6 separate regions of the Homo sapiens genome follow, and all the other regions are reported to be linked to region 6. Evidence: microRNA targets listed by miRTarBase, many of them from high-throughput screens and not tested one by one. Region 6 holds a microRNA gene; each other region holds the end of a gene's coding sequence.
Evidence for each region. Region 6 holds the annotated microRNA hsa-miR-5190 (CCAGUGACUGAGCUGGAGCCA, at 2,277-2,297, shown strand). A microRNA usually pairs through its seed, bases 2 to 8, with sites in the 3' UTR of a target mRNA and lowers its output. Matches are read on the target gene's strand: a 7mer-m8 pairs with bases 2 to 8, a 7mer-A1 pairs with bases 2 to 7 and ends in A, and an 8mer does both.

Region 1: the mRNA of SSX5 is a reported target of hsa-miR-5190. Seed matches in the 3' UTR shown: 7mer-A1 at 1,609-1,615 and 7mer-m8 at 1,988-1,994.
Region 2: miRTarBase lists SPART as a target of hsa-miR-5190. Seed matches in the 3' UTR shown: 7mer-A1 at 2,367-2,373.
Region 3: the mRNA of DENND2C is a reported target of hsa-miR-5190. Seed matches in the 3' UTR shown: 7mer-A1 at 3,640-3,646 and 7mer-m8 at 2,021-2,027.
Region 4: miRTarBase lists POGLUT3 as a target of hsa-miR-5190. Seed matches in the 3' UTR shown: 7mer-m8 at 3,364-3,370.
Region 5: the mRNA of MPRIP is a reported target of hsa-miR-5190. Seed matches in the 3' UTR shown: 7mer-A1 at 2,849-2,855, 7mer-m8 at 2,597-2,603 and 7mer-A1 at 259-265.

The regions. Positions count from the first base shown.
Region 1 is chrX:48,183,150-48,188,239 of GRCh38, reverse strand. It overlaps SSX5 (SSX family member 5), which reads left to right. Exons shown (of 8, transcript NM_175723.2): 7 at 509-613; 8 at 1,384-2,020. The coding sequence ends at 609. Among named protein-coding and RNA genes, the nearest start is that of SSX5, 11 kb to the left of the region's middle.
Region 2 is chr13:36,299,583-36,304,672 of GRCh38, reverse strand. It overlaps SPART (spartin), which reads left to right. Exons shown (of 9, transcript NM_015087.5): 9 at 41-3,035. The coding sequence ends at 308. Among named protein-coding and RNA genes, the nearest start is that of CCDC169-SOHLH2, 4.3 kb to the right of the region's middle.
Region 3 is chr1:114,581,514-114,586,602 of GRCh38, forward strand. DENND2C (DENN domain containing 2C) reads right to left here. Exons shown (of 21, transcript NM_001256404.2): 21 at 1,337-4,118. The coding sequence ends at 4,087. BCAS2 (BCAS2 pre-mRNA processing factor) reads right to left here and starts at 102. Exons shown (of 7, transcript NM_005872.3): 1 at 1-102. The coding sequence starts at 78. It overlaps LOC105378914 (a long non-coding RNA gene), which reads left to right and starts at 330. Exons shown (of 3, transcript XR_947719.4): 1 at 330-886; 2 at 1,012-1,125.
Region 4 is chr11:108,470,689-108,475,688 of GRCh38, forward strand. POGLUT3 (protein O-glucosyltransferase 3) reads right to left here. Exons shown (of 8, transcript NM_153705.5): 8 at 1,428-4,264. The coding sequence ends at 4,139. Among named protein-coding and RNA genes, the nearest start is that of C11orf65, 5.7 kb to the left of the region's middle. RefSeq lists an enhancer at 2,777-2,921 and a cis regulatory region at 2,849.
Region 5 is chr17:17,184,189-17,189,278 of GRCh38, reverse strand. It overlaps MPRIP (myosin phosphatase Rho interacting protein), which reads right to left. Exons shown (of 24, transcript NM_001364716.4): 24 at 1-4,456. The coding sequence ends at 4,385. Among named protein-coding and RNA genes, the nearest start is that of PLD6, 20 kb to the left of the region's middle. RefSeq lists enhancers at 2,891-2,960, 2,991-3,190, 3,978-4,478.
Region 6 is chr18:13,457,717-13,462,806 of GRCh38, forward strand. MIR5190 (microRNA 5190) reads left to right here and starts at 2,231; the gene lies at 2,231-2,310. All of the region lies in intron 4 of LDLRAD4 (low density lipoprotein receptor class A domain containing 4), which reads left to right. RefSeq lists an enhancer at 3,894-4,188.

The sequences.
Region 1 (5,090 bases), not on the chromosome of region 6:
TATTTTAAAAGACTAAAAAACAATAAAAACAATTGCAGTAATAATATCAAAGCTCACTGATCACAAATCACCATAACAGATATAATAATAATGGAAAAGTGTAAAATTGGTGAGAATTTCCAAAAAAAAAATTGCAACATCTGTGAAGCAGTATGAAAATGAGGTGCAATAAAACAAGGTACGCCTGTGTGGCCTTAATAAATACGTGCTGAATGAAAGGAGGTAAGGGTGAATGTTCCCGTAAGTGAAGAGGTTGGGAATCTAAACCTGACAACGGAAGGAGCCAGAAGCTAAAACTTTAATTTGCATTTGGCCTGTATTGGTGTGGGTCTAAGGTCTCAGCCTCTCTAAGCCAGAGAATGTGAAAAACTGGATAAAGAAGACCCATGGGCACTTGGTGGTGGGGAGGCATCTCCTTTTTTGGAGAAAACAGAGCCTAACACTCTCCAATCAACCCAACCCTCTCCAATCTACCCAACCCTCATCTTCCAACTCTTCTCCATCATAGGACCCAAAAGGGGGAAACATGCCTGGACCCACAGAGTGCGTGAGAGAAAGCAACTGGTGATTTATGAAGAGATCAGCGACCCTCAGGAAGATGACGAGTAACTCCGTAAGTGAACCTTTGGCTCATCTCCCACATCCTTGCAGATGTGCTATTCTGTTATGGTACTGGTATCCCATCTTATCAGTTGTTCCCCAAATCATTCCCTTCTCATAATTTTCTAGGGTACAGCATTGAGGCTGAATGATGAAATTTCCCATGTTTTTTTTTGTGGGTGGGGGAGTCTCCTTTTGTTCCCCCAGGCTGGAGTGCAGTGGCATGATCTCGGCTCACTGCAAGCTCCGCCTCCCGTGTTCACGCCATTCTCCTGCCTCAGCCTCCCCAGTAGCTGGGGCTACAAGCACCCGCCACCACGACCGGGTAATTTTTTTTCTTGTATTTTTAGTAGAGACAGGGTTTCGCCATGTCAGCCAGAATGGTCTCAATCTCCTGACCTCGTGATCCATCTGCCTCCGCCTCCCAAAGTGTTGTGACTACAGGCGTGAGCCTCTGCGCCTGCCTAACCATGCTCTTTCTACTCCCTGCCCTCTATATCCAGGGATCCTCCCTACCCAGGATGCTGTGGGTTCCCAAACCCCAGGTCAGCACTGATATGCGGGCCACACCTTCCTCTAGCCTAGGAATTGATAACCCAGGCGAGGAAGTCACTGTGGTATGAGCAGATGGTTCACTTCAAGGAACCATGGAAGGCGTGTACAGGTCCTGAGGTAGGGCAGAATCGGAGTGGGCAGGGTCTGCAGGTCAGGAGGAGTTGAGATTGAGTTGTCATGTGGTGGGAACTCACTGCCACTTACTTTCCTTCTCGCTTCTTGCCTCAGCCTCGGGGATATGACACATGCCCATGATGAGAAGCAGAACGTGGTGACCTTTCACGAACATGGGCATGGCTGCGGATCCCTCGTCATCAGGTGTATAGCAAGTGAAAGCAAGTGTTCACAACAGTGAAAAGTTGAGCGTCATTTTTCTTAGTGTGCCAAGAGTTCGATGTTAGTGTTTCTGTTGTATTTTGTTACAGTGTGCCATTCTGTTAGATATTAGCGTTTTCACTGATGAGCAAGACATACTTAATGCATATTTCAGTTTGTGTATCCATGCACCTACCTCAGAAAACAAGTATCGTCAGGTATTCTCTGCATAGAACAACACTACCCTCCTCTCTTCCCAGATGTGACCACTGAGGGCAGTTCTGAGTGTTTAATTTCAGATTTTTTCCTCTGCATTTACACAAACACACACACATGCCACACAGACACACATGCGCGCGCGCGCGCACACACACACACACACACACACACACACACACACACACCAAGTACCAGTATAGGCATCTCCCAACTGCTTTTCCCCATGTGTCCTGGTCAAGCCCCCCTCACTCTGTTTCCTGTTCAGCATGTACTCCCCTCATCCGATTCCCCTCTATCAGTCACTGCCAGTTAATAAACCTTTGCAAACGTTCCCCAGTTGTTTGCTCCTCTCATTATTGTGCACACAGCTCTGTGCACTTGTGTGAATATTTCTTTAGGAAAGATTCTTAGAAGTGGAATTGCTGTGTCAAAGGAGTCATTTATTCAACAAAACCCTAATGAGTGCGTCCTCGTGCTGAGCGCTGTTATAGGTGCTGAAGAGACATCAGGGAACAGGGCAGACAGATGTTCCTGACCACCATTCTAGAGGAGGATGTTTCCAGTTGTTGGGTTTTTTTTGCTTTTTTCTAGAGACAGGGTCTTACTCTGTCCAAGCTGGAGTGCAGTGGCATGATCATAGCTCAATGCAGCCTTGATCTCCTGGGCTCAAGCGATTCTCCCACCTCAGCCTCCAGCGAAGCTGTGACTACAGGCACACACCATCATGACCCACTAATTTTTTCAGGTTTTGTCAAGAAAGTCTCCCTATATTACCCAGGCTGGTCTCGAACTCCTGGGCCAAAGCGATCCTCCCATCTTGGCCTCCTAAAATGTTGGGATTACAGGCATGAGCCACCGCAACTGGCCTCCAGTTTTTATTTTGATAGAGACTATACACTTCAGTCCTGGAGCAGTATTCTGCAGCAGGTGGTTGGGAATCTTGGCCTTTGCTCTCTGAACGATTTTCGGGTTCTAGGGCTGGGACGGTCCATTTGGGAGTATGTGGTAGGAGACACAGATGAAATCATCATCTGGGGAATGCAGAGGGATGGGGAAGATGCGTGCACTGTAGACCCTGTGATGGCCAGGGAATAGAAGAGTTCACTTAGTCTCCATGCGGGGGAGCAACGGTGGGAAAGTCCCCTGGACAGAAGCATGAGACTGCCCATCAAGGGTCTCACCACCCAAGGGCCTGGGGGCTGGGGTGGAGACGATGATTTGGGAATGGGACAGTTCTTTCTCACAGGTACCACTGCACGGTGCAGAGGTGAAACAGTTGTGGGGAAGGGAAGGGCAGAGGGGAGTCTGTTTTAGAACAAACCATTGTGTGTGAATGGAGACATTAATGCTTGAAACACAACGGACTTGAAACAGCAGCCCCAGGTGGAGGCAGGATTGGAGCTGTTTTGACCATTCATACCCCATCACCTTGGCCTCCTGGTTCTCCCCAGCCTTGGAAGGAGAACACTATGATCATTATGCCTATATGATAGATGAGAGATAGAGTCCCAGACAGATGGTAGGTGTCTTGTCACAGGTCCTACAGCTGGCAGGTGCAGGAGGAGCTGAGTTTGGAGCTCACTGACTTCAGAAACATTAAGGAGGACAGGTGTGTGTGGTGGAGGGAGGGAGAATTGAACAAACTCCGGGTTCTGTCCCCAGTTGCAAGGTAGAGGCTGTGGGTTCATTTTCCCAAGACAAGGAGCCCTAGGAGAGAGAGAGTGCGGGGAGGGAGAGGCGGTCATGGTCACAGCAGGGACAGTGGGAGACAGAGATATGCAGGGTGGGCAGAAGAGGGGCAGGCAAAGAAGCAGGGGATACCCAAGGCCAAGTGTGGGCTGTCACAGCCACCAGAGGGAGAGGGTGCCAGGAAGGAGGTTGTGGGGCTCCAGGAGCAACAGAGGTTCCCCAGATCTGTGAGCATGCCCTGCCTGGCACTTCAGGAAGAGATGGCTTCCACCCAGGTCAGTGTGGACGTGCCTCTACCTGTGTCTCAGAAGAAACAAATTCTATTTTATCCCAATATAGTTCTGTATTACACAAATGTAACATTCCGATACTAGATATTGAGTGCCTTATCCTCCATGCAAAGAGGAGAGAATACCCTAAAAGAGATACTGAAGGATTTGACTTTTCTTTCTCCCTGGGATGATGGGATCCATAAGTTGGGTCCCCCAGCCCACAAGACAGGTGCAAGGAAGGGTGGCTGGAAGATTGTGAGTCATGACAGGGAACATTTTTCCTTAGGTTCCTTGGGTATATAAAGCTCCCGACTATCTGTCTATCATGGATAAAGAGTGAACATGGTCCCCTCTCCACAAATGTGTTTCTCTACTTCATTATTACTGTGAAGGGCTGAAGTTACACCAAGTCCTGATACATTTCTTTTTCGTGTTTTTTTTTTTTGAGACAGTATCGCAGTCTGTCGCCCAGGCTGGAGTGCAGTGATGCAGTGATCGAGGCTGCTCACTGCAGCCTCGATCTCCCAGGCTCAAGGGATTCACCCACTTCAGCTTCCGATCTAGCTGGGACTACAGGCACACACCACCACACTCAGCTGGTTTTTGTATTTTTTTGTAGAGACGGCATCCACTATGTTGCCCAGGGTGTTCTGGATCCCCTGGCCTCAGGCAATCTTCCTGCCTCAGCCTCCCAAAGTGCTGGGATGACAAGTGTGAGCCACCTCGCCAGGCCTTCAGTTTCTTTAATGAATAATTATCAGAGTTTCATCTTAGAGGCAAAAGTGGCTACTGCCAGCCAATCTGTCTGTGGTGTTGGAGGGGAATCTGGCTGATTCAGACGTTTCTGATGAACTTTTAAATTAACTTACATGATGATTTTCCTAAGGCCCTTTCCAGCTCCGTGTTTTCTTTGATTCAGGGTTTGGAGATTTTCAGAGGCTTTGTTACAAAGAGCGTCTCCTGGGCGGTCGCGGTGACCCACACTGTAATATCAGCACTTCGGGAGGCCGAGGCAGGCAGATCACTTGAGATCAAGAGTTTGAGACCAGCCTGGCCAACAGGGTGAAACCCCCGTCTCTACTAAAAATACAAAAATTAGCCGGTAGTGGTGGCTGGCCTGTGAATTCCAGTTACTGCAGGGAGTGAGGCGGGAGAATCCCTTGAACCTGGGAGACGGAGGGTGCAGTGAGCCGAGATCATGCCACTGCACTCCAGCCTGGGCGACAGAGTAAGTCTCTGTCTCAGACAGCATCTCTCGCCTATAGTGATTTGAGCTGTGGTCTTGTCTCCTTGGGTTTCTCTATCAGTCTGATCCCATCTACTCTGTCTCCCAGGTATGCCTCAGTATTCCTGGTGGACCACTGACACGCTTTCCTATTTTCCTCTACTGTTAAGAATTGACCCTTGAAAACATTTTCATCCCAGTTCAATGGAATGTTG
Region 2 (5,090 bases), not on the chromosome of region 6:
TTATTGTTTCATTGTATGTCCTCTAATCTTTCTTTTAAAGATACGGATATAATGCAGGAGAAGCTACCCACCATGCGGTGGATTCTGCGGTCAATGTTGGCGTAACTGCCTACAATATTAACAACATTGGTATCAAAGCAATGGTGAAGAAAACTGCAACACAAACAGGACACACTCTCCTTGAGGACTATCAGATAGTTGATAATTCTCAGAGGGAAAATCAAGAAGGAGCAGCAAATGTCAACGTGAGAGGGGAGAAGGATGAGCAGACGAAGGAAGTAAAGGAGGCAAAGAAGAAAGATAAATGATGAAGTGCTGGGAATCACTTATACCAAAGCCTTATGAAATGGATGAAATTTTGTTAAATAGGCAAATGTGGAATTCCTCACAGATTAACCAGTATTTTTTAAATGTATTCATTCCTACAAATTAACTTTCATAAATTTTATGGCATGTCTTCTATTTAAAAGGAAAAGAATAAGTATTCTTGCATCTGGCCTTAGAAATGTGAAGTTATATTCTCAAGTTTATTTTTTTCCAAGTGTAGCTAAAATATTTTTGCAGGTAAAATAAAGCTGATAGTACATGTGTTGTTCAAACCTTGTTAAACCTAATATTGAACTATTTTTATATCTGCTGTCTTTCAGAAGGCAAATAGGAAACTATATATTTGCTTAAAAATTGGCATTTAGTAACCTTAATTCTTTTTATAGAAGGAATGACTTAAAGTATTGTCCCCTCTTTTTGCACTAATTGTGGATTTTTTTAGATGCTTCTCAAAATTTTCAGTGTGTAAGCTAAACAAAAACTAAAACTAAGAATTCTCAAAAAAACTTGTTCAAAACAGGGAAAGACTGATGAAAAGTAAAATGGACTACTTTTGTAACTTACCTGTTTGTTAGGAAATGGAATGGTCTCTTTGATTTAAAATAAATAAAAATAGATTATTACGTCTTTTGTATTGAGACTGTATTGTTATGAGCCTAGGAAATTTGGGAACATGATTGTATTGTATTAAAATTCGAAGTGATTATTATCAGCTTAATTGGATTAAAAAAGTACTTCAAGAAATTATTTTATCATATCTGCTTCTGTTTTTCCAAAAGGTTAAAACTTGTAAAAAAAATATATATAAACAATTGAGTTTACTAATGGTAAACATTTTTATTCTGGGATTCGGTCATTGGAATTTATATTAAAAGACAAGTTATTAAAAAGGAAAGGTTCTATTCATAATCAGGGTAAAGAATATGAAAACCTTAGACGTAATCCATGGTGGATAGGCATTATGGTTTCCACTTTGGCAGAAGGCAGACTATTCACAGCCCTATTTACTTACATAGGCTAAAAAACTATGTAACTAAATACCTAATGGTATTTAATTTTTGTTTATTGAATTTAAGAGATTGGTATTAGTTTTCATAGCTGTAGTCCATTCTAATAATTTCTGATCTTCTAGTGGCTACTTAATTAGACATTATTTGAAGCTGTCTGAAGAATGCACTTTATGAATTAAAAAACTGAATTGCCTGACCTCGTTATCACATGAGCTTATATTTTGGGAACACATAGAACTGATGGAGGCTTTTCCTAAGGCCAAGGATAATGTACTAGTTGTTAAAATGGAAATAAAAGTGAAGTGGTAAATAGCTTACAGACAGTCTATGCTTTGTTTAAGAAATGGAATGGCACTTCATATATTCTCATTTGTGGGAGCTAAAAATTACAATAATCAAACTTAAGGAGATAGAGAGTAGAATGATGGTTACCAGAGGCTGGGAGGCATTGAAGGGATGGGGAGGGAAGTGAGGTTGATTAATGGGTACGAAAATATAGTTAGAACGAATTTGTTGTAGTATTTGATAGCCCAACAGGGTGACTACAGTCAACAATAACTTTATACATTTAAAAATAAAAGAGTGTAATTGGGACGTTTGTAACACAAATGAATGCTTGAAGCAGTAGATACACCCTGATGTAATTATTATAAATCGCATACCTGTATCAAAATATCTCATGTATCCCATAAATATATACACCTACCATGTACCCATAAAAATTTAAAAAGAAATGGAATGGCAAATAATGGAACATAAACTTTAAACAGTTAGCTTTGACCAGAGGTCAGCAAATATCCTCCATGGGCTAAATCCAGATGTCCACCTGTTTTCATAAATAACGTTTTATTGGAGCATAGCTGTACCCATTTGTTTACATATTGGCTATGGCTGCTGTCTAGTTCAACGTGAGAGTTGAATAGTTGCATCAGAGAGTATATGGTCCACAAGCCTAACTTATTCACTCTCTGGCCCTTTGCAGAAAAAGTGTGCTGCCTTAGTCTATAGAAAATGGACTTTTCCCACCATTCACTGACTCATTAGGAGATAGGCATCTTCTAAAGATTTTTTTTATATTGTGTAATGATTGATATATAGATAAAATTATATATTACTTGTAAGGTATGATGAATAACAACACTTAAAAACTCATCACACCTAAAGACATGGAAAGCTGCCAATTACCTATATGTATGTTCTTCCTATTTTCTTACCTCTTTCCCCATGTCATTTTTTATTGTTCCTTGCCATTTTTTAATCACACATGTATGTTCTCCAAACATACTGTTTCATTTTTTGAAGCTTTCTACATATAGTGTCTGAATGTGAAGTCTTACTCAACTTGCTTTTTTGAGTTTATGTTTAAAATTCATTCTTGCGCTTATATGCATGGATGGTTTACTTGCTCTATAGTATTCTGTGTGAGTATACCACAATTTAAGTGTTCATTTTCCTATCAGTTGACATTTGTTTTTAGTTTTTGTTGGTAGAAACAGTACACTCAAAACATCCTTGACTGTCCCCTGGTACACATATGCAAGAGACTTTATGCGTAAGAGTGGAGTTGTTGGCTTGTCAAGTTTTGCAAAATAATGCCAGGTATTTTCCAAAATGATGATATTCTCTTGAGTATTACTTCCCTTTGCAATGTTTTTATTGTTAATGTAGCATATATAAAAAAGTATCTCATAATTTTAATTTGTGTTTTCTTGACCTCCTTTCCTGACCTTAGATCAGTAATTTTTCATGTTCATTTGCCATTCATTTGCCTGTGCTGTAAAATTTGCGTGTTGTCACTGCTGACAATTTTGCTTCTCATGTTTAGGTGTTTACTGAGAATTGTGTATATGTGTGCAAGAGGTAAGGTATCTAATTCCTCCCCTCCTCCCCCACCCCGTAGATAATCAGTTATTTAACCCCCATTTATTGAATAGTTCTTTTCTTCAGTAATTTCCCACAGGTCTTTCTCTATATATAGAGTATGAGTGTTTCTGGGCTCAGACGTTTGTTCCATCTGTCATTTCTTTTGTTCCTGTGCCAGTCCCACACTGTCATCATTGTAAATTAGTAAGCCCTACTGATTGTTAGGGCAAGAGGCTCAATTCCCTCAACCAAATTCTTTAGGAGTATTTTGGCTGATTAAACAAGTTCCATAAGGAGTTTAAAATCTTCCCACAAAGAAACATCAGCCCCAGATGGACTTACAGGTGAGTTCTAACATACCCTAAGAAAATAATGTTACCTTGGGTGCAGAGGTGCACACCTGTAATCCCAACACTTTGGGAGGCTGAGGTTGGGTGGATCTCTCGAGTCGAGGAGTTTGAGACCAGCCTGGGCAACATAACGAGACTAAAGATATTGTTGGACATTGTGAATTTTACCTTATTGGGTACTGGATGTTTTGTGTTCCTATAAATATTCTCGAGTTTTGTCTTGGGAGGGGATTAAGTTACTTAGAACCAGTTGGATACTTTTGGATCTTTCTTTTCAACTTGTTAGGGCTAGTGTTTTTTCCGACTCCTAAATCAAAATCCTTTGTGTACCTGATGCCCTGTGAATTCAGAGGTTTTCCATTCTGGTGGGTGGTAGCAGGTATTATTCCTACCTCTGTAAACTGTAAGGATTTCCCCTCTAATCCTTTGTGATGGTTCTTTCCCCAGCCTGAGTACTTGCCCCACCATGTGTGTGCATTCATCAGTATTCTGCTGCAGAGTGTACCTTGTGGCAGGCCAGGTCTCATTAACACAGGCCTCCATAACAACTGTTTCAGTACTGACTTGAGTGGCTAAGTTAAATACTAAAAGCTAAAAAAACCAAAGCCCTTATACAAAGGCTGGAATGTAATAAAAACCCACCAAGAACTAGGTCTCAAAGCATGACAAAAAAAAAAAAAAAAAAAAAGAAGGAATTCTTAGCTGGACCCATTTAGGATTAAACAAGTTTTTTGGGGTTCTGAAGGAATCCCCAAACCTCCCTGATTTAGCAGGAGACAGGGGTAATCACCCTAGCACCTGGACCCATTTAGATTAAGTTTACTGAGGCTCCAGAGGAAGGTCTTCAGGACTCAAGACCTTAGTTGTAGATTATAAAAAGTTAACCACTTAATGTCTATAGATGAATGCACACTTACACATAGACATATAGCTTAGAAGGTCTGGAAAACTGTAATTTTGAGTTGGTCTGGTTATAGTTTCCAGGGCTTCTGCCTGTAACTGGTTCCAGAAATAAAAACTCTCTTCCTCCCCAGTTCATCTACATGTTCTTACTGGGTCACAAGAAATAGCAACCCAACCCTCAGTTTGGTCTGGGAACACCCTGTGCAGCTCTCCCCTCCAATATCTGCCCTGCAAAGTCTAGCTGCCTTGTTCTCTCTAGACTCTTAGAGAAACTCCGTTTCCTCAACTTAGGGCAACCACCAGCCTCTGCCTGTTTTCTCCCTTTCTGCTTTGTACCCTGGCAGGCCCAGGCCAATTTGGGAGCTTGCCTCATTTGTGTCTCATCTCTTGGTGATCGTTTTCCCTTATTGCCTGATGTTCAATGTTCTTTTTTTGTTCCTCTTAGTTTTTTAGTTGTTTCAGGCAGGAGGGTAAATTCAGGTCCTTTATCTCTGCCAGAAACACAAATCTGTGGTTTCTGTAGTTGTTGACAAACCTGTTTTCTGCTTGCCTTTGCTCCTAATTTCCCACAGTGAGATCCTGCTAACAGATCTTTTTAAGAAATCCTCTGGGTCGGGTGCAGTGGCTCATGCCTATA
Region 3 (5,089 bases), not on the chromosome of region 6:
AGGGGCTTCATAACCTTGATCAAAATACGGCAGCGCATCCACCACAACCTCTCCAGCCACCAAACCTGTGCCCGCCATTCTGAGGACCTCAGGTTTGCCTGCGTTTTCTGCGTCTGCGTAAACTCAGTTATATTTAATTACGCCGGCGCCTGACACTGATGTAATCACGTTCCCTCCGTATTGACGTTAGTGCATGCTCAGTTGCTAATTTTGAAGGCGGGTCCGCCCGGTATCTAGAAATTGCCGGGCTGGTTTGTTTTGGGCGGACGTGACGTAACGTCTTGGCTTGTCTGCGTCAGCGAAAGGCCTCAATTTCCTGTCCTCTGCTTACTGCCCCTTTTTTTGCCTGCGAATGGCGGCGATTTGAAGTTGGGGCTTTTCGTTTCCTCCAAAACATTGATATCTGGAAAGGGAGCCCCTTAACACTTTTGGAGGGAACTGGCTGCAGCATTTGGCGGGGAGAGATAAACTGGTTTCCCACCTCTGCTTACTCCCACCTTCTCCCCTTAATCTTCTCTTCCTCTGTGCGAGACTTTTTTCCTTTTTTATTGTAGACACAGGGTCTTTGTTCTGCTGCCCAGGTTGGAGTGCAGTGGCGTGATCATAGCTCACTGCAGCCTCAACCCCCCGGGCCCAAGCGATCCTTCCACCTCAGCCTCCCGAGTAGCTGGGCCTAGAGGTGCACACCACCATGCCTGGCTAATTTTTAATTTTTTTTGTAGAGATGGAGCCTTTCTATGTTGCCAAGCCTAGCCTCGAACTCCTGGCCTCCCAAAATGTGGGGAATACAGGCGTGAGCCACTGCACCCCGGGTCATTCCTCTTTTACTTCCTTGCTGTACCCCAACTATCCTTCCCCCTCGGTGCCCTTAAAACCTTTGCATTGGGTAAGTACATTTTTTAAAGAGACTCTAGAATTGGGCGCCAGTCTCCAATTAAAATTGTGAAGCTTTATGGTCTGCGTATCAAAAGGAACCTCAGTTCCTTAAAAATCCTGTCATTTTGCCTTTAGGACTTAACGGTAATAGAATGGCATTCCTCACTGCCTCCGAACCACTCAAGCTGCTGCCCATGCACTCTCTTCTGCATGGCTCCTGGACTAAGCAGCCTCCCTTTGATTAAGCAGGTAAAAACCAAATAAAGTTGTCAGACTATATGCCCTGCCCAGTGTGCAGTCTAGACCCAGCCTTTGTCTGCCAAGAGCCTGGAAATGTTGACCTCCGTTATTAAGCCTGGTCAGTCTAAGACTAATTCTTATTACCGAAGTACCATTAGGTAAATGTGCTAGCTATAGATTTAAGTGACATAAAAGATCTTAAAGAATTCTCCAAGGGATCTGTGGGGGGTTTATGTATTTATTCATTAAAAGATCTGTAAACAACATTTTATACAAATCTTGATTCTTTTACAAAAATATCCAGAATTCCTAACACTTTACAGAAAACACAACAGACCTAAGGAAATGAAGCAGCTTCAGGCTGCGAGGATGAAGACACCATTGCTGAAGCAAAGGTCTCCTCCTAGAGGGATAGCCAGGATCCATCACAGTAAACCCTTTTACCCCCATTTTATAAACATCCAATTATTAACTGTTCCTGCTGGGTTGGAGTGTAAGAAGAGACCAAATGGAGAGATGTCTAGTAGAAGCCCCACTGGGGGTAACCTGCTTAACATTAAAAAAAAGACAGGCTCAGTTCTATTCCCTGGACCCACATCTGTAGGAATTATATTATACAGCACCAGTCTTAAATGGTGTTCTGCTTCAGATTCATGCATACCTGAATGGGTTGTAATGACAATACTGTACAAGTCAATAAACTGTATCACAATACAACTTACACAGTTTTGTAAGGTTGAATAAATACTTTCTGTGCCAGTTAAAACCATCAGCAGAAACTGAAGAAAACAAACTGACATTTGCTATAACATTAATCAATGAAAAGTGCACCATCTGAACTTGAATTTGCCCATGAGTTTGAAAACACACACACACACACACACACACACACACAGGCCGGGTGCAGTGACTCATGCCTGTAATCCCAGCACTTTGGGAGGCCAAGGTGGGTGGATCACCTGAGGTCAGGAGTTCGAGACCAGCCTGGCCAACATGGTGAAACCCCCGTCTCCACTAAAAGTACAAAATTAGCCAGGTGTGGTGGCGGGTGCCTATAATTCCAGCTACTCAGGAGGCTGAGGCAGGAGAATTGCTTGAAGCCGGGAGGCGGAGGTTGCAGTGAGCCGAGATCACACCATTGCACTCCAGCCTGGGCAAAAAGAGCGAAACTCCATCTCAAAAAAAAAAAAAAAAAACCGAAACAAAACACACACACACACACATACACACACAAAAAAAACACTGCACCATCACTGAAAACTTTCTCTTTCCAATCACTACTACTACTACTTTAGATATTAAAGGTCTGGATGACTAAGTGGTATATGTTCAAGGAATGTTCATATTTTGAGTCTAATTTAATTAGAGCAAAAATTTCAACATTTCTAGGGGAATAAAAAGAGTCTCATCTAGGCACCTATAAAGTTCCTTATCCTCAGAGCTGAAAAGTGGCTCTGGTACACTTAATAGAAAATTTTTATTAATAAAAGAAATAGCTATATAATCCTACTGAGATGAAATTTCCATCTGTAGGACTAACCAACTTTTTCTGTGTCCATAAAAGTCTTGGCTTCAGTTCTGTGTTGTACAACTTTGGGCAACGTATTTAACTTCTTTGAATTTGTTTTTTTCTTTTTTCTTTTCCTTTTTTCTTTTTTTTGAGATGGAGTCTCGCTCTGTCACCCTGGCTGGAATGCAGTGGCGCGATCTCGGCTCACTGCAACCTCTGCCTCCTGGGCTCAAGCGATTCTCATGGCTCAGCCTCCCGAGCAGCCAGGATTACAGGCACCTGCCACCACACCCAGCTAATTTTTTGTGTGTATTTTTAGTAGAGACAGAGTTTCACCATGTTGCCAGGCTGGTCTCGAACTCCTGACCTCAAATGATCCACTCGCCTTGGACTCCCATAGTGCTGGGATTACAGACGTGAGCCATAGCACCCAGCCTCAGTTTATTAGTAAAATGGAGATGCAAATATCTATCTCATAAGGTTGATTTAAGGATTGGTTGAGATGATATGCATACATATACCACAGTGCATGGCACATGGTGGACACTAAAAAATAAAGGTGGCTCCCATGCCCTTGAAAGGACATTTTCATATTAGCTATAATTTCACAAAGTTTAAATTTATTTACTTATTTTTAAAATGTTTTTGTAGAGATGGGATCTTGCTATGTTGCCCAGGCTAGTCTCAAACTCCCACCCTCAAACTCCTGCCTTAGCCTCCCAAAGTGGTGGAGATTACAGGTGTGAGCCACTGCATCCAGCCTCCACAAAGTTTAATGTTGACATGTGAGGCACAAGCAAACTACTCAAATGCCACATAATTTGGAGGAGGAGTTGCAAGATGTCTAATTTTATAAGGTACTTAATAACAGTACCTTATAATATTACAAGTAGGGCTTCCTCCTAAGTGAGATTCCCCTAGATATAATATAAGGCAAAACAATGGAGATATGTGATGAGTCTATTCCTTAGCCCAGGTCAAACAGCCCATGGGTTTAAAGGGGCCATGATAGTTCAGTGATGAGAATTATGTGTATAAGGCTAGTGTTCTCCATTTCCATCATGTCTCTCTACTACCTTAAACTCAGCATTTCTCTCATTATTCTCATCTTTGAGCTATTTTTTAAATGTAACAACAACAAGGCTTTTCCTTGTGAAACACAACTACTTTCACAGACAAAGCACAAAACAGAGAATGAGCCCAAGAATCACATAGAAAAGGCTGCTATAAAAAAAAAATGGAGACAGAGTAAAGATGGCATGGTGCCAGACCATTCCCAACAATTCTCCAGTGATTACTACAGCAGCAACAGGAGAATCCTCCTCTAACAGCCTGACTCGCTCTTTAACCTTTTAAAATTTCAAGAATTTTGTAGAATACTTCATGGGATCCTGACCCTTAGAAAAATATTTTCTTTGGCACTTTCTGTTGTATATTCAGGATGGAGACAATCAGAGATTTCATTTCTTTTGCAGAAATTTCATTTTGCTTCCTAAAGGGAAAGAAAAGTACAGTGAATGCTCAATTCATTTTTATTTATTGTACATTATTTGAGGTAAGGGATTAACAGGTCAGTCATTCAGAACAGCCCAAGAGTTAAGCTGACATCTCAAACTCAGTTGATGTGTTTAACCCCCAAAACAAAAACAAAAATGAACCCCAAACCCCATATGTCTAGTTAATTGTAGCGGCAGAAAAGAACTCAGACATCATGTAATCCAGTGGTTTTCAACCTTGACTATAGGTTAAAATCACCTGGCTTCTCCCCAGAGATTTCCTGGAGCCCAGGGGAAAATTTTTTTTAAGTTCTCTGGAAATTATAAAATGTAGTCAGAGCTGGGAACCACTGATCTAATCTAACCCCATTGTATAAAGATGAAATAACAGCCTAAGGCCTAATTTGTCCATGGTCTGTCAGCTAGTGAAGGACAGGGCCTAATTAGGGGGCATATATTTCAAAGACAAAATATAAATATCGTAGCATATAGGTTATTCATTATTTTAGGCTAGCCACACCCCTGTTCTCTTGTATCATACTAATTAACTATTACTGAAAAATCATAAATGTGTTTCTGTATGAAGTAGAAAATTAGAGACTTGTAAGAAATCCTCTTTTGCCTCAGAAGTCCCTCTAAACCAAGTGTTTTTAATCTGGAGTACCAAAGATAGACTTCATGGGGTATATGAGCAGCCTAAAATTATGTGCAAAATTTATTTATATGCTGTAAATACATTTTTCTGGGAAAAAGGACCATGGTTTTTATAAGATTCTCCAAGGAATGTGTCCTAGAAATGATTAATAATGATGATATGCAAACATATCATGAAATAAATAAACTTATATCAGGGAAGTTCATCTCTGGGAAATGGCCCCACAGACCACTCTGATGAGGGATCCCAAATTTTGAGAAAAATGCTGCTTTTTCTCCAAAACACTTTGAAACTAGCATCATGGTTTATGGT
Region 4 (5,000 bases), not on the chromosome of region 6:
CAGGCGCCCTCCATGATACCTGGCTAATTTTTTGTATTTTTAGTAGAGATGGGGTTTTACTGTGTTAGCCAGGATGGTCTCGATCTCCTGACCTTGTGATCCACCCACCTCGGCCTCCCAAAGTACTGGGATTACAGGCGTGAGCTACCATGCCTGGCCCCTTTTAGTATTTTCACCATCAACAAAAATAATGGTGCCAAGCTTAAATATTTTTTCTTTTCTTTTCTTTTTTTTTTTTTTGAGACTGTAACCACACAATGAGTTCTCCTTGTCTGCTGCCTAGACAGAGCCAATTTATCAAGACAGGGGAATTGCAATAGAGTTTAATTCTTGCAGAGTTGGCAGTATGGGAGACCGCAGTTTTATTTCTTGAATCAGTCTCCCTGAAATGTCAGGGATTGTGGTTTTTAAGGACAATTTGGTGGGTAGGGGATCAGAAAGTGGGGAGCTGCTGATTAGTTGGGTCAGAGATGAAATCAAAGGGAGTCGAAGCTGTCCTCCTATGCTAAGTCAGTTCCTGGGTCGGGGCCACAAGACCAGATAAGCCAGTTTATTGATCTGAGTGATGCTAGTGGAATCATCAAGTGCAGGGTCTGCAAAATATCTCAAGCACTGATTTTAGGTTTACAATAGTGATGTTATCCCCAGGAGCAATTTGAGGAGGCTCAAAGTCTGGCAGCCTTCAGATGTATGAATCCTAAATCATAATTTCTATGTTTCAGCTAATTTGTTAGTCCTGCAAAGGCAGTCTAATCCTCAGGCATGAAGAGGGCTTCTTTTGGGAAAGCGCTGTTACCATCTTTGTTTCAAAGTTAAACTATAAACTAAGTTCCTCCCAAGGTTAGTTTGGCCTATGCCCAGGAATAAACAGGGACAGCTTGGAGGTTAGAATCAAGATGGAGTTGGTTAGGTCAGATCTCTTTCACTGTAATGATTTTCTCATTTATAATTTTTGCAGAGGTGGTTTCAAGACAGGATCTTGCTCTGTTGTCCAGGCTGGAGTGCAGTGGCATGATCATAGCTCACTGTAATCTCAAACTCCTGGGGTCAAGCAGTCATCCCACCCCAGTCTACCAAGTAGTTGGGACTACAGGTGTTCACCACCATGTCCAGCTAATTTTTAAATTTTTTCTTTTGTAAAGTTGAGGGTCTCACTATGTTGCCAGGGCTAGTCTTAAACTCCTGGGCTCAAGTGATCCTCCTGCCTCGGCCTCCCAAAGTGCTGAGGTGTGAGCCACCGTGACTGGCCTTTTCTTTCTTCTAATGTTATTATAGATTTCTGCCCTTTAGGGACTGAGTGGTGATTTTGGTTCATTTACTCATGAAGACATAATAGAATCAAAATTAGACCAATGCAGTTACAGAAATACCAGGGCTATAAGTGGTTACAACCTCTTTCTTAAAAAACAAAAGGTATCTTTTTCAACTTTTTATTTAGAAAATTTATTTTATTTAAAAGGTATATATATACATAAGTCCCAAGATATAAAGTTCTAAACATAGATTTAAAAAGAGCAAAATGGAAAAAATATAAATATTTGCTGTTCCTGTTTATATCTTTTGTGCATTTATTGTCTTTTCTAAGGTTGGCATTTTTCTTTATTTTGCAATTTGATCCATACTTACAGTAAAAAAAAATCTAAATATTATAGAAAGGTATAAAGCAAAAAGTAAGAATTCCCTTCACTCCATCTTCTCCTCAGATATTGGTGAATCTCCTCCCAAACTTTCAACCACATAGATGCATTTTTGTTTTCAAACCAGAAAGCCATTAACACTAACTCTTTAAAGGCTGCGGCTGAATTGGCGAGATGAAGAATTATGTAGATTAAGGCTGCTGTCTCCCTATAGAATTTTTTGAGGGATTCCACCTTTTTTTAAAGCACATCCTTCCTGTTCCACACACTGAATCTGCCTGGTTTGTCTCAACTTGCTTTTAACTATTAGGCCTGTTTGGCAGAGGCAATATAAATTTTTAAAAATGTAAGATGTTTAAAATGCCATTAGCCTTTAGCACCTGGAATTTGAGGCAGAAAGGTATGAGTTAGGCAACCTTTCTTGCCATAATCCCAGTTTTGACAAGCCTCAAACACAATGTACAATATTTAAGACACAAATTCATTAGGTATGGGCTCAGGACAGCTTGCTCTTATTTAATACTTGCGTGCTTGTGGTTTTGCACAATGGATGGGTATTAGAGTTTGCCTTGGATACTTGGCATTGATTAGACTGTTCTGAAATTTGGTTATGCTTAGTCAAAAAATTCTGTTTATTGTTCTTCAGCAAGAATAGATGTAACCACTTTAAAAATAGTTACATTGTTTTCCAGATTAAGTAAATATTTCAGTTAGGAGAATACATATTTTTATTTTTATTTTCAGTTTTTGAGATGGAGTCTCACTCTGTCACCCAGGCTGGAGTGCAGTGGTGTAATCTCAGCTCACTGCAACCTCTGCCTCCCAGGTTCAAGTGATTCTCCTGCCTCAGCCTCCCGAGTAGCTGGGATTACAGGCAAATGCCACCATGCCTGGCTAATTTTTGTATTTTTAGTAGAGACGGGGTTTCACCATGTTGGCCAGGCTGGTCTCAAACTCCTGACCTCAAAAGATCCGCCCATCTCGGCCTGCCAAAGTGCTGGGATTACAGGCGTGAGCCACTGCAACCGGCCAGAGTACATATTTTAAAATTTGGAATGAGGATAGCTCTTGTTTTAGAACATGCACTTTAGTGAACTGAACCTTGGACTGATGGTTACAAGGAGTATGTAATGAGCTTTCAGGCTATGAGTCCTAAATCCTGACCCTGTCCTAAAAGAGAAAGGAAATTTCCAAAGTCTTCATCGTAGCAACGACACCCACTGAAATAGAAAAGTGGTGGAGTGAGGAATGGATGCTTGCCTTTGTTCTTGGCCTATTATTAGTGAATCCCAAGATAGCAGGCTTCCTGAAGATTGTTGTAGAGGTTTTCAGTGTTTTCAAGGATCCCCTTTTCAGCTTAAAAATAATGAATGCCTTTCACCTGACTACAGTTATCTTTCACCTATTCAATATAGAGATAATGAATGATGCCTATAGCATACCTTCATCTATGTTAATAACTGTATTGTCTTTGATGGGTATACAACTCAGATAGATTTGGAATTACTAACTTAAGGTACAATTTCTCCTTAATGTTGTCTCGGGCTTTGGCAAAATTTAGTTTAAAGGATATGAGTAGTGCTTTAAAAAATATTCCCTCCACAGTCTCCATGCCACCTTTAATAACAGAGTCATTCTCTTCTTCCTTAAATATCCTTATCAGACCTTCTAAAAGGAAGCTGTTATTAATGAAAGCCAAAAGCAGCTTGTAAGAGGAGAAATTATGCAGTGACGGGGGGCGGGGGGACAACCCTGAACAAATATTTTCTCTTCATAATTGGAAGTGGAAGAGAAAAAGTGAACAGGGGATAGAAATAAACCAATAAAATATGTAAACCAATAAATATGTAAACAGTTTTGCAGAGGCTGATTTATATTTTAGCAAGTCTCTCTATCGGCTATGATCCCCAAGTTTTCTTTTTAGAGAAACTATGATGCTGATAATAGCAGTTTTTACGCAAAAGATATTAATATTCAATGATATTTGGTAATGCTTGTTCAAATACAGGTTGAACATTCCTCATACAAAAATCTAAAATCTGAAATACCCCAAAATCCAAAACTTTTTGAGTGCTGACACCACCACTTGGGTCGCTAAGATAGTGACACCTTTGCTTTCTGACAGTTCAATGTATACAAACTTTGTTTCATGCACAAATTATTAAAAATATTATATAAAATTACCTTCAGGGTATGTGAACAAGGTATATATAAAATATAAATGAATTTTGTGTTTAGACTTGGATCTCATCCCCAAGATACCTCATTATGTACATGCAAATATTCCCAAATCTTAAAAAATCTGAAGCCTGAAACACTCCTGGTCCTAAGCATTTCAGATGAGGGATACTCAACCAGTACTGCTATATCCATCTACATATATAAAGCCACCGGGAGAACTAGTCCACTTGGTGCAGTCTTCTATACTGTCCTTCACAGCTTAGATTCAATCTTTCCTTAAAGTGTAGCCGGGATACACAGGAGTGTGATTCTGGGCTGACTCAAAGTTCTTCTCTTGAAGGCTTTTTCCTGTGGCACTGGCAGATGGCTGTGCTATCTTCTGGCTGAGGAACAAGTTCCATTCCATCACGTACTTCGGGTTTGCTGGACTGGCGCTCGGCATATTTCTGAAACGTGGGTTTAAAGGGAACTGAAAGGTTAGTTCACACTGCATTCTGTTGACTCCCCCACCCACTCCCATCCGCAGTCACGCCATCTTTTCTAGTTGCTGTGTGTCTGCAGACTAAAACCAAAGGTCTGGTTTATTCCAGTCCTAAAGTTACATTTTAACTTTAGCTATCACAGGCACTAGTTATAATTCATAATCTAGCAAGAAACCCCAATCCACAATTTTATGTGTTGGTTGGAAGCCTCTACAAAAGGGATGCCAAGCCAGACGTCCCTACCTGAAACAAACAGCAGCTCTCAGCATTTATTTTCCACTTGTTATTGAATAATTAACTTTGTTGAATACTCAAGCCAGCAAACAAACAAGATAACCATCTGAAAAGTTGGCAGTCTCACACATTCTTTCTTTTAGGCCTATAGTCACACGCATTTTTGAATGGCAACAGGTCTGTGTAATGTTCCTCCACTGTGGCCCTGAGTGAAATATTTCTATAAATGGAGTTTTTTTTGTTTTTGTTTTTTTTTTTTTTTGAGACACGGTCTTACTCTGTCACTGAGGCTGGAGTGCAGTGGCGTGATCTTGGCTCACTGCAGCCTCCAACATCCTAGGCTCAAGTGATCCTTACACCTCAGTCTCCTAAGTAGCTGGGACTACAGGCGCGTACCACCATGCCCAGCTAATTTTTTTCATTTTTTGTAGAGATGGCGTTTCACCATGTTGCACAGCCTGGTCTT
Region 5 (5,090 bases), not on the chromosome of region 6:
AGGCAGAGGTTGCAGTGAGCCGAGATCATGCCACTACACTCCAGCCTGGACAACAGAGCGAGACTCTGTCTTGAAAACAAAAAACAAAAAACAACCCCCCTCCACCCAAAAAAACCCCCACTATATCTTATAAAGGAAAGTCTTATAAATTCCAAGCTTCTTTAGGACCATGTTAGGCAAACTCTTCTTTTCAGGAAAAGTTAATGTTGATGTGTCACATTCTTTTCTAAGTGCGAACTGTCTTAGAACTTACCCAAGTCAGTGAATGAGTAGCTGGGAGAAAGGGGTATGTGGCCAGCCATTAAAGTCACCCAACATACAAAGGAGCAGGGGCCAGCAGAGCTTCCCCTACACCCCAAATTAGGCTGCAGGTCATATGCAAAACCTAGGAGGCCAAACAGGATTACTTGTTTGTGTAGGGACCTGGCTGCCAACAGGGACCCCACACAGGGTGGCCTTGGCCTCCAGGGCCCTGCAACACCTAGCGGGCTCTGCTGTGTCCCAGCTCCGTGGCACCCGGCAGCCTCCCAGGAGACAGCCAGGCAGGAGTGATGATCAGGATTGTGTTCAGTTTTCAGCATGTTTCCATGTACCCAAAAGTTAAGAGTCCCATCTACCTCTATAGTAAAACAAAATGATAGTAAATACATTCCATAAAAATGTTTTTCAAGCCATCAGTTTTGTTTCCGGCCTTATCTGTCAGTATTCCTTTCAGGCACATTCTGAGATTCACAACTGTGTTCTTTAAACAGCCAAAATTCCCTCTTCTCCAGCATGAGCTGGAGGGTCAAGGGGTGATGGGAGCTGGTGGCTGCTGCAGAAACAGGTTCTTGCTGGGCCTTCCAACTCACTAAGCAGGCTGTGGGGCCTTGCTCTCCATGCTCTTCTGCCTTCATACTTGCTGAATCCGAAGGCAAGATCCTCTCCGATGTTACCTCTTGTTCAATAAACCTGCAAATTCGCGATACTGCCACCTCTAGTCGCCCTGGGATGTCCACTGCATCACCCACTTAGCACAGGCCCATTATGACTCCCTGAAGCACAGGCTTCCAGCTCAGAGGGCAGCGCACTGTCTCCACCCCTGCCCAATGATCCACTCAGACCCGGGAGGCTGTGGACAGCGCGTCCTCTGAAATGCTGGTCTCCACACCTGCCTGGGGCTGGGGCACCATGGGTGGATAAAGAAACTGACCAGCAGAAAGTGACTATTCTGCACGTGCAGGCGTGCACACAAGGTAATTACCCACAAGCCTGCAGAAACTCACACGAGCACAACTGCCTCGCTTTCCCATTCATATGTGTGGCACAGCTTACTGGCTGGTGCTAGCATACTACACATAAATACATTTATAGGAAAATAATTAAAATGCTGAAGTCTATCTATTTGAACTTCTTCCTCATCGGTAAAGCTGGGAAAGCTCACTACTGTGTAGCTGGTGCCAAGGAGCAGCCTGAGACCCCGCCTGCAGCTGTCCCTAAGACTTTCCTCTCCCCATACAGAAACCAGTTCTACTTCTTCACTGTTCTTCTTTCTTCCCTCTGGAATTCAGGGGTTAAATCCCTTCCAGGGTATTTGGATGCCTGCAGGAAGGAAACTGGAGAGAGGGCCCAGCCCTGTGCAGCACAAGGCTCCCTGCTCAGTGTGGCACCAGTTGGGCAGCCGTCAACATCTGTGCCAGTGTTGCCACCTGGGCAAGTCTCTGTTCCTGGGGCATGTCCAGGTGCAACATGAAGAACATCGTCATCCTTTCTCGCCTGGTTCACTCCATCGCAGGATGGAGCCCACCAGCAGGGAACCCAGACTTCCTTGACCCAGATGGTGGCTGTCCCTGTATGAGGGCTCTTCAGAAACGCCAGGACAGGCCCAGGGCATTTTCAGGAGCTCTTAGCAAAGCAGCCTCAGTCCGTTTCCTGGCAATACCCTACACTAAACCAGCCTCTGGGGAGAGACCTGTGGCAGGGAGGAATGCAGACGCCCTGCTGGCCTGTCTCTGACCCCTCACATGCTGCACTCATATTAATTTTCCAGGATTCCTGAAGTCCAGCCTCAAGGGATATGTGACAGAAAAAAGGGAATCAAATGCTCTTTTGTCCTATGGGCAAACTTGCTTTAATTTAAAGCACTGTGAGGGCTGAAGGCAGATGATCCTGTCTCCAAGCATGGACTCTGGCCAGAACCCCCTGGAGGGCAGAAGGCAGGGAGCTGTCTGCAGAAGGGCCAGTGGGGTCCACCCCCAGGGGCAGCAGGGATGGTCACGAAGGAAACCATGCCAGGAAGGGCAGGTGGTGGACCTCAGAGAACGGCACAAAATCGTAGCACCCAGACACGAGGCAAAAACTCCTATCTGGTCAGATCCTGATGCACTCCAGGTCCCTGTCTGTCCTGGAGCATTCGTGTGACCCAGCAGTGTCCTGGAGACAACAATGAGGCTGTGGGGGACAGCGGGGTCCCGAATGTTCCTTCTGTATATTCCCATTGACACAGAAAGGTCATAGTGCATTTCTCAAAGCACTGCCAATCTAAATGGTCAGGGGGGGTCTGATAAGTATATCTATATCTGATATGGGGCCTTGCTTTGTCACCCAGGCTGGAGTGCAGTGACACGATCATGACTGATTGCAGCCTCGACCTCCCGGGCTCAAGCAATCCTACTACCTCAGCCTCCTGAGTAGCTGGGACTACAGCTACGCAACTGTGCCACCTCAGAGAAGTAGATTTTTAAACAAACCCAATTTTCTCTTGCTGTTAACAACACTGAAGACTAGTAGCAGAGGAGTGAAAGTGTGGGTTAAGAGCCTTAAAAACTTGTGGAAAGGGCTCGATGCCAGTGGAGAGCACTTAGTTATTTCAGTGAGAAGAGAGCACCTAAACCTGGGTCTGAAAACACATGAAAACTCCAGGCCTTGCTCCCGGCCCTTCTGCACATTGGGGGCGGGGCCAGAGCTCCACTGATGGCCTTGCTCATGACTTCATCTAGAAACTGAGCAACAGGATTTCTAGATTTCAACGCCCAAAGCATCCACCCACCCACAGAGACCATCACACCAACACAAGCATGAATACAAAGTGAAAGCATGTTCTTGGCATGAAAACCATCTACTCACACCCCACCTTGCTCCTAAAGTAGCAGAACCTGTTCCACCAGCCAGGGGTTTATACTCCCTATCTTAATGGGATTAATGGTTTTCATGGGGCCATAATAGACTCCAATTTAAGAGATTTTCAAGAATTGCCATAGAATGTTTTGTGGTGGTTAAAAAGGTCTTCCTCAAACTGTTAGAAAAAGCAAAATTGTTAGTATAGGTTTACTTTAACCAGGCTCTTTTAAAGATAAATGCTGCAAGATAGGTTTTCAGAGCTCAGATTAATTAAATGAGAGTTAAGATCGGAGTCTCAATAAACACTAATGTGCTGTTCTCATCAGATTCTGACATCCTCTGTACTTTCTTCTTGACTTAACAGGGGTCTCCTCTCAACCTTTTCCAAAGCAATGTGACGGTTTCTTTTCCAAAAGGTAAAAAAAAAACCCAAACCCCCAAACCTTCCCCCATTTTGAATGATTCCTGGGGGGAATTCATTTGTTTTTTGCAATCAGAGTCTGAAACCTGGGCTGCAGGTCAACAATCTCGAGCAGTTATGAAAAGACCAGGGTTACTGGAGACCAAGAAAGGAACGAGCGGAGGAAGGAAGGAAGGAAGGAAGGAGAGGGGCCGGGGATTTTGTGCAAGATTTAATAAAAAACAAACAAAAATAGGAATGGTTGCTTTCAACATTTTCCAGGTTGTGAAAGGTTTGCCACGACTCTCAGGGGTGTGGTTCTAAGCTGCATCAGTGGAACAAATACAAAATGCTGTCCTCCTCCTGGGCTGGAAGGCAGTGCACTTTCTCCTCTTAACAGCCAGACTAGCGGGTGAGGAGTCAGTGCTGTGACCCAGGCCAAGCTGGAGTGTCCGCATAGCTTTTTCTCTGACCAGTGGGGATTCCATCTACCTTGAGGCGTGCTGGCTGGGCCCCGTTTCCACACCAGCACATGGTGAGACAGGGTAGCTTATCAACAGGCTGCTGGGCCTTAATACTGACAGTGAGTGTGGCGGGTCACAGCCAGGAAAGGACTAACACAGATGCCCTCCCAGCCCCCACTGCTGGCCTAATTTTAGAATACCACGGAAAAAAGCTTTGATGAAGACAACAGGAAGTCAACACAGCAGAGAGTGGTGTGGACAACCCAGAAGCCAGCCTCACGCATTCCATGCCCACAGTTAACGATGACAACAACAGCAATAATAATAATAATAATAAAACAAAGGTACAGGTGAAAAGCAGCGCTTGGGGTGTGCTGCTGCAAGCTGGGGAAGGCGCGTGCTCAACTTGGATGGGACACACCTAGTCTTTCTTCAAGTCCCTGGATTCAAAGAGCTTCAACCGTTCTTGCACCGTCAGGCCTTCCTTCAGACTCTGGGTAGAGACAGAGCAGGAGGAGAAAATAAACACACCGTTAGACCCCCTGCACTGGACCGGACCGGACCAGACCGGACCGCTGGTGGAGCCGGCATCAGTCAGAGAGCCGGGTGCAGGTGCGGTTAGTGGGCATGCCAGGAGGAGAGTCCCCGGGAAATGCTGTTATTGGAGGATGTTTTCCCCTTCACAAAATTACTTGGATGAAAAAGGAAAAAAAAATCAGAGAGACAAGACCATGTGTTTAAGCAGCTAAATTCTGAGCTTAGGGCTCTTTAGAGAAGCAGTGATCAAACGAATCCAGCCAGGGAAAACAGTGCAATGAGCAAGGAGACTGCCCATCCCCGTGTCTTGTCTTGTGAATGGATTTGTCCACATCCAGCTCCAGAGATTCTTCACCTGACAGCCTCAGCTGAGGAGGACCAGATGCTCCAGGGAATCCCCAGCAGGATGGGTGTCCCGGGACAGGGCCTCGCTCCTACAGTGCCTCCGCAGCACCTGCTGCCCTCAGACCCATTTCTGGCATTCCCTCATCAGAGGCCTGTGAGTGTTATGGGGATGTGGGAACACGCCAACGTATCTAGTAAGATTTTCAAAACATAAAACCAATACTCTGTTCACGTGGAATCTTGCT
Region 6 (5,090 bases):
CGTGGTTCACAGGCCCTCCCCAAGCATCCCAGGGCCCTCTGCTGTGAAGGCGGCTCCCCCTGCCTCGCTACCTGGGCCCCCGCTCCCCTGTGCAGTGTGCTTATTTCAGTGCTGGTCTGACTTGCTCTTTGTGGTGGTAAGCTCCATGAAGGCAGGACCATGCTCAGGGAGTTTCCTGTCCTTCACTGCCCCAGGGATGTGGCAAATACTTAATCAGTGTTTGCCTATGGAGTGAACAGGTCCATGAATGGTCTTGGAAAATGATGTATCCCAGCACCATGGTGGTGGTCATTCATACGTGTTCTCATGACTTCTTTGCTTTTCCTAATGGTGAGTTCGGTAGGCCAATTCATTTCTTGCTGAAAAGTGTGGTAAAGGCAAGTCTCCTAACTGGACCAAGACTACAGCCTGCAGAACGCGCAGGGCCTGGGCATGGGGAAGCACGGATGAGGAGCCTGCTGCTGATGCTGAGCAGGAGCCGTGGAGGGGTCTACACCACTCTGCTGACTCTGCGTGATGAGGATTCAAAATGCCATTCACGCAAAACAAATTTAGCAACTAAGAAGTAGAGCGGCGCGCTGCTTTAGAAGCACTATGTGTTAGCAGGTGTGGTACACACCTGACTTTGCTTCTGTGGCTGAGGAAGGGGAATGAGTCTTCTGTGCGTAAATCTTTCCACAAGCACCATCCTGGGTGTCCTGCCTGACCAGACTTGTGAGCCAGGGCCAGGTTGAAGCATGTGCCCAGGTGAAAATTATGCATTATTTATTCATGTGAGCAACTCTGCGCCTATTTTGAAACATTCACTGCTTTGTTTTGTTTGTTTTGTCTAATTGCATGAAAGATGTGGTAGGCAGAATAATGCCCCCCAACAAAAGGTGTCCACTTCTTAATCCCTGGAACCTGTGAATATGTTACCTTACTAGCAAAAGGGACTTTACAGATATGACTAAGGCTAAGGACCTTGAGTTGCAGAAATTATCCTGGACCATCCAGGCAGGCCTGGAGACATGAGTCCTCTAAAAACAGAGACTCTTTCCCAGCTGTGCTCAGAACCAGAGGTGACCACCAAAGAGAGATCAGAGCCATGCCATGTGAAAAGGACTTGACTTGCCATTGCTGGCTTTCCAGATGATGAAGGGGCCTCAAGCCAAGGAATGTGGGCAGCTTCTAGAAGATGGAAAAGGCAAACAAATATTCTCCCCTAGAGCTCTGGGAAGGAACACAGCTCTGCCACCTCCTTGATTTTCACCCAGTGAAATTAGTTTTGGATTCCCAACCTGTAGAACTGTAAAGTAACAAATTTGTGTTTTAAGGCCAGGTGTGGTGGCTCACGCCTGTAATCTCAGCACTTTGGTTTTGGAAGGCCGAGGTGGGAGAATCATTTGAGGCCAGGAGTTCGAAACCAGCTTGGGCAACATAGTGAGACTCCATCTCTACACCAAAAAAAAAAAAAAAAAAAAAAAAAAAAAAAAGCCAGGCATGGTAGGTTATGCTTGTGGTGCCAGCTACTCCGGAGGCTGAGGCAGGAGGATCACTTGAGCCTAGGAGCTTGAGGTTACAGTGAGCTATGATTGTGCCACTGCACTCCAGCCTGGTAACAGACTGAGACTTAGTCTGAAAAAGAAAGAAAAATTAAAAAATAACATTTGGTGTTTTTTTTTTCTTTTTGTTTTTGTTTTCCTGAGATGGAGTCTTACTCTGTCGCCCAGGCTGGAGTGCAGTGTGTGATCTCAGCTCACTGCAACCTCCACCTCCTGGATTCAAGCCATTCTCTTGCCTCAGTCTCCCAAGTAGCTGGAATTATAGGTGCCCGCAACCACGCCCGGCTCATTTTTGTATTTTTTGTAGAGATGGGGTTTCACCATGTTGGCCAGGCTGGTCTCAAACTCCTGGCCTCAGGTAATCTGCCCACCTCAGCCTCCCAAAGTGCTGGGATTACAGCTGTGAGCCACCGCACCCGGTCAAATTCGGTGTTTTAAGCCACTGAGTTTGTATAGCTTGTTATAGCAGCAATAGGGAAGAGATACATATGGCTTTGTCTATAGAAAGATATTGCTTAAATAAAAAGAAGAAAACCCTTCCAGGTCTACATTTTCTCAGGCAGTGCTTGCGCTTTAAGGAGCACGTGCAGGATATTTACATCAGCAGCAAGTATATGAATCGTAGCCTAGTCTCATCGTTAGAGGTGCATAAACTCAAGGTAAGCATACCCTAAGTTTCCGCTCAAGGTCATACCCTGGCTCCAGCCCTGTCACATGGTTAATGTTCCACAGCCAGTGACTGAGCTGGAGCCAGGGCCACTGCCCCCACGTCGTCACGCCATGGTCATTGTCATTTCACTGCAGTTTCTCCAGCTTCCTTTTGAAGAGGAACACAAAGGAGAGGTGCTTTGCAAGGATACAGTATATTATAAGAATAGGGACATGTTTGAAACTAGTAGTTAATGAACATTATTTTCCTAAATTCATAGCTTTTATTTTGTTTTTTTTAAGAGACAGGGCCTCACTCTCTTGCCTAGGCTTGAGTGCAGTGGCGCTATCACAATTCACTGCATCTTTGAACTTCTGGGCTCAAGGGATCCTTCTGTCTCAGCCTCCTGAGTAGCTGGAACTACAGGCACACGCCACCATGCCTGGCTAATTTTTGTGTTTTTTGTAGAGATGGGGTCTCACCGTTTTGCCCAGGCTGAGCTGGAACTCCGGGCACAAGCAGTCCTCCTGCCTCAGCCTCCCAAAGTGCTGGGATTACAGGCATGAGCCATGCACCCGTCCTTAACTGATAGTTTTAGAGCAGTCCATTAGAGTGGACCCATGTCATCTGACGAAGCCATGTGTCTGTTTTGTATTTTCTAAGAGATTTGGTGCTGAGTAAAGAAAAAGAAAATTCTTCATATCTGATGAGAAGGTAGTGCTGTTGAGAGAGACCAAAAAAGGACAATTAGTGATGAGGGTATTTAAGGCAGACAGTTCATACCTCCTGAGTTTTTGGAACATGTGTCTCTCTTTGGTAAAATATTTTGGGGATAATCCCTATTATATGTGTATTTAATTATTTTAATATTATATACATATACTATTATAAACTTCCTAAGATAAACACAAAATTATAGATTTTGCTGAAGAGCAAAATAAAAATAAAATTGTTCTCCCCTTTTCTTCCAACACCAAATGAATCAGCCCACTGGGGTGTAGTAGGCAGCTCTGCCTGGAACTGCCTGCCATGCCGCCCTCTGTGTGCCTGGAACAGCCTGCCATGCTGCCGTCTGCATGGCCGGGGCCCTTCTGCAGCCCCCACTGCACCAACCTTTGTCCGCCTTTATTGTTGGTGAACACAGTGCCCACCTCACCATGCTGGGGTGGCCTGGCTTGCTGTCTCTTGAGTACCGTGGGAACTGAGGCGGGCTGGCCTTGTCTCCCCAGCGCCTGCTCACAGAAGGTGCCCCATGATGTCTGTCGTGCAGATGAATGTGTCCACGCGTGCTGGGCTAGTACAGAAGATCGGTAGGCAGGGGTCTTCGTGGCCAGGGCCTGAGGAGGACCGATAGCCTTGGGGACTGCATGGGTTTTGAGAGTCTGGGGGAACCAGGGGGAAGTAGGAGGACATAGTAAACAAAGGTCAAGAAGAGCGAGGAAGACGTGGGGATGGGGACACGTACCTGACTGAGGAAAATGGATTCTAGGAACACAAACGTCATTGAAGAAGGAGAGTGTGTGTTACTGGTTGAGGGTGTCCTGGTCCTTGGCATCTTGAACAAATAATCAGACAAAACACACAAACAAAGCAAGGAAAGAATAAAGCAACAAAAGCAGAGATTTATTGAAAACGAAAGTACACTCCACAGGGTGGTAGCATGCCCTAGCAAGCGGCTCCTGAGCCCGGTTACAGAATTTTCTCCGCTTTAAAGACTCTCTAGCGGTTTCCCATTGGTTACTTGGTGTACACCCTATGTAAATTAACTAGTGGCCTTTGATCAGTCTGATTGGTTGCAGGAAGGGGCCAATCAGAGGCTGAAGCAAAGTTACAAAGTTACACCCTATGCAAATGTCTGATTGGTTGCAGAAAGTGACCAATCAGAGGCTAAAGTGAAGTTACAAAGTTATACTCCTATGCAAGACTTGGCCCCTGACCAGCCTGATTGGTTGTGGGAGGGGTCCAGTCAGAGGTACTTTCAATTTTTCATCTGCCACACAGAAAAAGTGGGAGGGGGCAGGGTTGCAAGGGAGTAGCCTCTGGTCCTTGTGTTACTTGGGCATGGAAAGTTGGGGTTTTCCTTTTGATTTAGTTCTAGGAAGTCGGTGTGAATCGGCCTTAGGTTCCCTTCCTCCAGATCCTATTCTCCTGCCTCATGGGGTCACTGCTTGCCTGGGTGGATGAGCTGGAGCTTCATTCTGTGAAAGCAGTGGGCTGGCTTCAGATCCCGTGACAGCTGCAAGCACAGCAGAACCAAGGCAGGCACTTGTGGACTTCTTCACTGGCCTCAAAAAAGCAGGTGGTGTTGTCAACTGTGGTTACACTGGACAGAAAGAACACTGTTACCAGGGGCCAGGTGTGCAACAGTTCTGACTAGGGCCGTGGGAGTAAGGCCGGGAAGCAAGGGGTCCATGCAGTTACTCTGAGCTGAGACGAGCAGGCTGACCGCTAGACTGGGGGCCACAGGGGGACGGGCCAGGGATGCATCCAGGTGTCAAGCCAGGGTGCATGGTAATGTGACTCTCCAGACCACACAGCCAGGTAGGGGGCTGGTTTTCAGGATGAGATACCAACTTTGGTCTAAGAGAGGTGACTTCTACATAGGGCTGTGAGACAGGCACTGTTCAATAAGCAGTTGGAACTAATTTTTTTGGATTTTAATGATTCCAAAAAAGAAATCTGGGAGCTACAGAATTAGCATTTATCTTCTTCCCTTAACTGATACAAATTCTTCTATGCCAAGCCTTGAAGAGCGCCCAAGAAAGGCGTATATCAATGCGGAAGGTGGGAGTCCAGGAGGCCAGTGTGGGCTCAGTCATGGTGGCTGTCACGGGCGGAGCAGGGACAGCAAGGATGTCTCCCAGAAATGCAGAGAGCCTGAGCAGAGCCCCGCCTGG